Homo sapiens: one gene and its partner. The protein of the gene in region 1 interacts with the protein of each later gene in a pairwise test. Each region holds a gene or a part of one and is shown in the gene's direction. Other genes may lie near its edges.

The links.
Region 2: the proteins of TSHZ2 (region 1) and CNTROB interact in binary tests that used the Homo sapiens proteins (3 or more experiments, as listed by UniProt).

What each region holds. Positions count from the first base shown.
Region 1 is NC_000020.11:53,255,220-53,259,132, forward strand, and holds part of TSHZ2 (teashirt homolog 2), read left to right. Parts: coding exon 1-1,344; 3' UTR 1,345-1,352; intron 1,353-3,913. UniProt on the Homo sapiens protein: Probable transcriptional regulator involved in developmental processes. May act as a transcriptional repressor.
Region 2 is NC_000017.11:7,930,010-7,933,922, forward strand, and holds the start of CNTROB (centrobin), read left to right. Parts: upstream 1-2,196; 5' UTR 2,197-3,070; coding exon 3,071-3,340; intron 3,341-3,913. Other genes in the region: TRAPPC1 (trafficking protein particle complex subunit 1), read right to left, coding at 597-725, 1,002-1,140, 1,497-1,567, 1,722-1,820. UniProt on the Homo sapiens protein: Required for centriole duplication. Inhibition of centriole duplication leading to defects in cytokinesis.

The sequences.
Region 1 (3,913 bases):
GTTTCTATGCCCACACACCTGGCCCCTTACACTCAAGTCAAGAAAGAGTCAGAAGACAAAGATGAAGCGGTGAAGGAGTGTGGGAAAGAAAGTCCCCACGAAGAGGCCTCATCTTTCAGCCACAGTGAGGGCGATTCTTTCCGCAAAAGTGAAACACCTCCAGAAGCCAAAAAGACCGAGCTGGGTCCCCTGAAGGAGGAGGAGAAGCTGATGAAAGAGGGCAGCGAGAAGGAGAAACCCCAGCCCCTGGAGCCCACATCTGCTCTGAGCAATGGGTGCGCCCTCGCCAACCACGCCCCGGCCCTGCCATGCATCAACCCACTCAGCGCCCTGCAGTCCGTCCTGAACAATCACTTGGGCAAAGCCACGGAGCCCTTGCGCTCACCTTCCTGCTCCAGCCCAAGTTCAAGCACAATTTCCATGTTCCACAAGTCGAATCTCAATGTCATGGACAAGCCGGTCTTGAGTCCTGCCTCCACAAGGTCAGCCAGCGTGTCCAGGCGCTACCTGTTTGAGAACAGCGATCAGCCCATTGACCTGACCAAGTCCAAAAGCAAGAAAGCCGAGTCCTCGCAAGCACAATCTTGTATGTCCCCACCTCAGAAGCACGCTCTGTCTGACATCGCCGACATGGTCAAAGTCCTCCCCAAAGCCACCACCCCAAAGCCAGCCTCCTCCTCCAGGGTCCCCCCCATGAAGCTGGAAATGGATGTCAGGCGCTTTGAGGATGTCTCCAGTGAAGTCTCAACTTTGCATAAAAGAAAAGGCCGGCAGTCCAACTGGAATCCTCAGCATCTTCTGATTCTACAAGCCCAGTTTGCCTCGAGCCTCTTCCAGACATCAGAGGGCAAATACCTGCTGTCTGATCTGGGCCCACAAGAGCGTATGCAAATCTCTAAGTTTACGGGACTCTCAATGACCACTATCAGTCACTGGCTGGCCAACGTCAAGTACCAGCTTAGGAAAACGGGCGGGACAAAATTTCTGAAAAACATGGACAAAGGCCACCCCATCTTTTATTGCAGTGACTGTGCCTCCCAGTTCAGAACCCCTTCTACCTACATCAGTCACTTAGAATCTCACCTGGGTTTCCAAATGAAGGACATGACCCGCTTGTCAGTGGACCAGCAAAGCAAGGTGGAGCAAGAGATCTCCCGGGTATCGTCGGCTCAGAGGTCTCCAGAAACAATAGCTGCCGAAGAGGACACAGACTCTAAATTCAAGTGTAAGTTGTGCTGTCGGACATTTGTGAGCAAACATGCGGTAAAACTCCACCTAAGCAAAACGCACAGCAAGTCACCCGAACACCATTCACAGTTTGTAACAGACGTGGATGAAGAATAGCTCTGCAGGTATGGGTTTGCTCTGAGGCATTGCGATTAGCCTGGTGAGGAGCTTTCTTACAGGGAGATGGGTCTGCTTAGAGGCAGCTAGCATCTCCCAATGCCAAGCAGGATAGTAGCTTGCTGGAGTAGGATTTATTTTAATGAAAGACCAGAACATGAAAACTAAGTCCTAATCATTCTCTTAAGTCCTCTAGTTTAGAGCTGGGAACTAGAATAAAACGGGTTTAGAGAGATAAAGTTCACAGATTACTACTGCTTTTTTTAGGCCTTCATCATCCATAATCCTGAATTACCCAAGGCAAGCTCCAGTGTCCAGCCAAGGCTATCTTTCATTTTAATTATTAGATACTAACTTCTGTCACCATTCCATTTCACCACCCCACCTTTCCATAGCAATGCCAATGACTTATAAAGTGACAAAAAGTTGAGCAATGGAAGAAAGATTGGAGAGTGCTAGAAGTAGTTACTATATAGAGATTCCTTAATCAGCTCATGAATAGCTTAAAGTTGTCTTTATGATTGTTACTTGTAATGAATGCTTTTTTGCAGCTTACTTTTAGTAATTGCCACCTTCCACCTCTTCCCTTTGGTTATTTTCTACATTAAGTGTCCTATGAATGAGCATGTGCCCTTAACAGGTTGGTAGAAAAATATTCTTCTTTGCAGAACATTGAGATGAAAAGAAGCTTATTTTCTTCTTTCATCTTTTGGTTTTCTTGTGGATAGACCAGTATTAGAGCCCACCTTTAACAAAGATAGAGGCAATGTGTGCCCTTGAGGTTTCATTTCACATAAAGAAACAAATGGCTTTCTGTACACTTATGTTAATGTGCATGGAGTCCCATAGCTTGAAGATAATGTGCATCATGTGTCATAGAAGTTCCATGCCTTATATAGTCAACCATGCCCAGACCATTTGTGTCATTTTTAGGAAACAGGGCAGAGACCAAGGTCAAATGCTTTGGCAGATTAGTTTCACCAGCCATTTTCAAATGTTGAGGATAAGCAAGGCTGGGTCTTAACCAATCTCTTTCATTTGCCCATTTGTGTTTTCTCTACTTCTTTTTCTCTCCCTTCCAGCATGATGCCCGCATACACTAAGGGCCCTCCTATGTGTTCAGGTGGTCCTCCACCTTCGGCCATTCCCCAAGATGGGAACCCAACCTGAACTAAACCTTCTGTGCTGACCAATCCAGTTGACGTCATGTTAAGTTACGGATTTGCTCCTAGTTAATTAGCTCTTAATTCACGATCGAATATGAAAAACTAATAACATATAATCGCTCACCACACCCTATTGTCAGAGCATTGGTTTACAAATAGAAGACTTTCAGAACAAGCTAGAAAGGTAGGACACTAGGAGAGTTCCAGGTAGAGAGCGGTATTTACATGGCATGGCTTTGGGCTTGCCTCACATCAGACAGAGGGGTTTACTGGGTGTGAAGATGGCCAAGATGAAATAAAAAGTTAAAATATCTGACCTGGGACTTTCCCCTGAGTGAGGCGATCTACGCTTCTGATGGAGAGGAGTCCTCCTATAACTCTAATTGCTATCTAGACCCAAATGAAGACTATCTTTTTGGTTTGCATGTTTTTATCATGATGATTGAATGTGTTATTGGCAGATTCTTCTCATTCTTTCCAAGCATGATTTGTTCAGCTCACGGAATTGAAAGAAAAGCCAAAATGCATCCATTGAATTCACACCTGAGCTTGGGGTTCAACAGCGTCCTATTTATTTGCTGCATAACATTTTAAATCTTAAATAACTTGCCATTATGTTTTCCTGGTTCTTAAAAAAAAAGAGGGGGGGCATACAGAGAATACTTAGAGAGAAGAAAGATATTTCAAATCCAATAGTGGTGGGTTGAAACCATGGTGAAGAGGACAAATAGGTAATATTTATTTGTACTATAACAAAGACCACTTTTCCACCTGTTAGGTTTGTAATCTTTTTTAGAAAATTAATATAATTGCCAAAACACTCTGATATGTAGATAGGGAGAGGTAAGGAAAAGAAAGCTTGATCCATCGTCAGTCAGAATCTGGAGTGTATGATACCTGTTCTAGGGATTCAAAGGTGAACCAATAATTTGGAAAAACATATACAAAAGGTACTTCCAAATCCATTAAATACATAGATAAGATAGCCATTTTGGCACTTCTCTGCATTTGTACAGGATGAGTATATCTAATTTGGACCTCGAAAGCACCGTATTGGTGTTTTCATTATACAAAACCAAAGCTCCATCCTTACAAGCACCATTAGGCTGTGGTTCTGAGAGGATTGCAGAAAAACAGGTTTGAGTGTTTGGGACTCACTCAAAGCCATGGGCGTGTATGTATGTTTTGTAAACAGAAAAGATGGTGCAGGTACTGGCTGTGTTTGTGTTCATCGTAAAAATACTCCTATCTGCCTGAATGTTTCCCCCATCTGTACAAAGGTCGATTCTTGGTGCTTTGGTCACCTTAGAAAAAAATGCCTCCACCCCCGGGGTCCTCTTTTAGAACAATATTTATGCAATACCTTGCCCATTGCTTAGAATGATGCATGTAAGGTTTCTAAA
Region 2 (3,913 bases), on another chromosome or scaffold:
GACCCAAGGGCTGTCAGGCTTCCCCCGGCCCAGTGATTCTCAATCGGGAGGGAATGTATCTCCCAGCGTACTTTCGGCAAGGTTTGGAGATATTTTTGATTTCATGCCTGTGCTATCAGCATCTAGTGGGTGGTGGCCAGGGATGCTAAAATCCTACAAAGCACAGGACGGTCCCCACAATAAAGAATTATCCAGCTCAAAGCATCAATATTCCCACGGTTGAGAAACCCATCCGCAAAGCCACTTCGTGGCCCTCCAGGGGGTGTGGCTGCCCTACTTTCCACCTTCATGCGTGGGGCAGGACTGAGAGGGCCCTCAAACCAACACGCTCAGGCCGCAGAGAGTGACAAAAAGTTTATTCTGTGCTTCTCGCAGCATTAGGCAGGGGATAAAACTGGAGAGAGGGCCTGGTGTGGAGGTGGAGGGACTCTGTGGGCTTCACTCTGGTAGGAGGAGAGCATCAGGGCAGGCCTTTAGGCTGTTGCTCTGGGCAGGGGGTGGGGGTGCGGGGGCTTACAGTGGGGGCCCTTAGTTGGCACAGGTTCGGAAGGGCCCCAGGCAGACATGAATTCTCCTGAGACTTGAGGTAGGTTGCTTCAGCCAGCCCGGGCGGAGAAGAAGGGCAGAGAGCGAACATAGGAGTCCAGTCGGGAGCGAAAGAGCTCACTTTGCACAGTTTGGCCCAGCGGGCACAGGGGATTCTTCACCACCAGCTCCACATACAGCTATGGAAAGGGAAGATGTTAGAGCCAGGCTTTGGATACTTCTGGTTTTTAGCCCCAAACCTTGTATAACCTCAGGGGTGTGTGAATGCACAAGGAATAAGGGCTGGAAGGCAAGCCCTCTCTGAGGAGAAAGTGGTGGTGGGAGTTAAGAACCTAAGGGCCCCTGAGAAAACTCTTGAGTTGAGCAAACATATAGTAGGATTGGGGCAGGGGAGATGAGGGAGTCTTGGGGTTCTGAAGAGCTCTGGGGGATGGGTCCCTGGGGCTGGCACTGACCGCACTGTAGATGTGGTGCAGCACATCTCGGATGGGTCCCACGCCCAAGTCAGTATTCATGACAACTTTGATCCCAGTGGGCGTCTCGTAGTAATGGAGTTTGTAACGGCTAGTTTGGAAGGCCAGGAAGCCATCCTTCCTGCAGAGATGAGGAGGGTGTTAAAGAATGGGAGCAGAATCTCTCCCAAAGAGACACTTCTGATCCCCGCAAACATCGACTCCCTCTTTATCTAAACATATCCTTTGTAGAAGCCTGGTTGAGTAAAGACATCGCCCATCGTCACCCCTCAATTTAGCCCCCACCAACTTCTCTACTTTCAGACCCTCCCCACCCCCACTCCTGCCAGCTCCAGCACTCTCGCTCCGGACTCAGCCTCTCTTAAGTACCCTTTCCCCCCTCTGGAGGCCAATGCTCCTTCCACTTCAGAAAGTTTCCCCCATCCCCAAATTCCCAAGGCTAGCCCTCCTCCCAACATCTTCTCTGACTCCGCGTACATGTCTAGCGGGGACATCTTGCTGACAAACGAGCGGATAGAGAAGAGCATCCCGTACATCAGCTTATACTCCTGGAGGGAGAGGGGCAGAGTTAGCTCTCGGTTGATGCGGGAGATGGGGTGGGGGGTGGGAACGAGCTGGGGTTTGGAGAGGAGGGGCTGGGTTGGGACTATAGGTGTTTGGAGATGAGAGGTCGCCCGGGCTGCACCGGGGCCCTCTCGTCACCTCCTCCTTGGGAATCCCTGCTTGCTTCTTGCGGTGCCATTCGCTGTAGTGCAGACACACTCCATTCCGGTCAAACAGGTACAGGTTGTGGACAGTCATCTGCAGGGCAGGGAGTGTGAGCCTCGCTCCGGGGCCGCCCCCACTCCTTGGGCTCGGGTTCCCGGACCCACAGCCTTCCAACCAGGTGGGGACCCCACCCACGGACTCACCGGAACTGCTCCGAGTGCCCGTCAAGAGTTACTTCCGGTTTCCACGGAGCTCCGCCCCTTAGGGGGGTTCTCGCTCGGCCGCGGCTGGGCATTAACTCCGCTCCAGTGCTGCTTGTCAGACTCCGCCTCCCTCCCTCAGCCAATCTGTGGCCACCGGAGCCGCGCACGCGCGGCCAGGCGCTCGGGATACAGAAGTGATGTGAGTGTCTGCGAGCGTGGTCTCGCGGGCGGGTGACGTCATCGAGGCGAGAGAGGCGGAGCCGTGGACAGTGGGCGGGAGGCTGCCAACGGTTTTGAGCGTAGGGGGAGGCGTGAGAGGGGGATCTCAGGGGAGGAGGTCAATCGCTTGCCCCCCACTTTGGCAAATTGGGGACTGAGGACTGGAAGGGTGGAGAGTAGGCGGAACCAGGTGGTCGTCGGGGCAGAGGATCTCGGGCTAGGCTTGAGGGCGGCGTGCTTCTTAGGGACGACTTAGGGCGTGACTGAGGGTTCACAAGGTTTCTTTTGGGGTGGTCGGGAGGGAGAGATTCTAGGGAACAAGGAAGCTCGCTATGGCTTTCTTGCCAGGAGGGGTCGAAGGGAAAGTACAAGGGAGCTGGAGCTGACCCTGGGTAGAACGGGTGAAGGGATGGGGGAGCGTGAGGTTCCGCCCTCTCTTGAGACTGGAACCAATTGAGGGACTAGTAGGGCAGGGGGACAGAAATTGGGCTCCTAGTGGATTTGGGTCCGTTTCCGTTGGGACGTTTTGGGTGTGAGAACTTAAGAGCTCAGTTGACCGGGGATAGCCTGTGCCGGAGTTGATCTGCAGCTTCCAGCACTCGTAGTCGGGAAGAGGAGCTTCAGCAGCGCTGTTGTCCCACAGTAGGTCTTCTGTCCGCACCCGCTCTGCGCTGCACCCTCTTAACGCTGTTCCCAGGAGCTGGGGAAAGGGATGCTTTTGCCCACTCCCATGGCCCCTGGAACTGGTGGAAACCTTTCCTCTAACCAGAAAGCCTCGATATCCTTAATTCACCAAGGATCCTTGGCGTGGAGTCTTCCTCCCTTCTCCCAAGTCTTTCTCCGTGAACTTTTCCTCCTGGACTTTGCTAAAGCAGAACCTCCCAGCTCTTTGCTGTCTCCGGTTGTCTCTTCCCTGTATTCATGGCAACATCAGCTGACAGCCCCAGTTCACCCCTCGGGGCGGAGGATCTCCTGAGTGATTCATCAGAACCCCCTGGGCTCAACCAAGTGTCGTCTGAAGTGACCTCCCAGCTCTATGCTTCTTTGCGCCTCAGCCGGCAGGCGGAGGCCACGGCCCGAGCCCAGCTGTATTTACCCTCCACCTCCCCGCCTCATGAAGGGTTAGACGGCTTCGCCCAAGAATTGAGTCGAAGCTTGTCAGTCGGATTGGAAAAGAACTTGAAGAAAAAGGTGAGGGAAGTGTGTCTTGGAGACCACTGTGGCACTAGACACCAGAGAGTCTTGGGATTGGGGTTGGTAAAAATAAAAAGCTTTGATGAGATTTGAACTCTTCCTGTTGGATTTCATATTCCTTTTAACTGCATAGGCAGCCATGCTTATAAGGGAGGGAGTGACCTGGGACACCATAATTTGAAAATTATGAAACTTCCCAGTGTTTTTTTGTGAGAGACATCTCTGCTCCGAGTAGATAGAGCAAACCTATGGGGTAGGTTGGTGAGCTATTTCCCGTGCACTGGGAATGGGTAAGGTTTCTTGATCCCAAGAGGGAGCTAGGGACTTAGGATAGCAGCTCCGATCCTTCCAGCTCAACACTATGTTGATAGTATGGTTCCAACTTTGGCATGTACATCATTAAGACATAGCTTAGTCAACTACAACATGTTACAGAGAAGATAGTTATTAGTATTGTATAGAAAAGGTGTCAGAGTCAATTTGCAGACTGGTTAGGTCTTCCAGAGTTTGAAAATGATAGCCATAAGCCATACAGTCCTTACATTTGTTCTTGAATCGGCAAGAATCTCC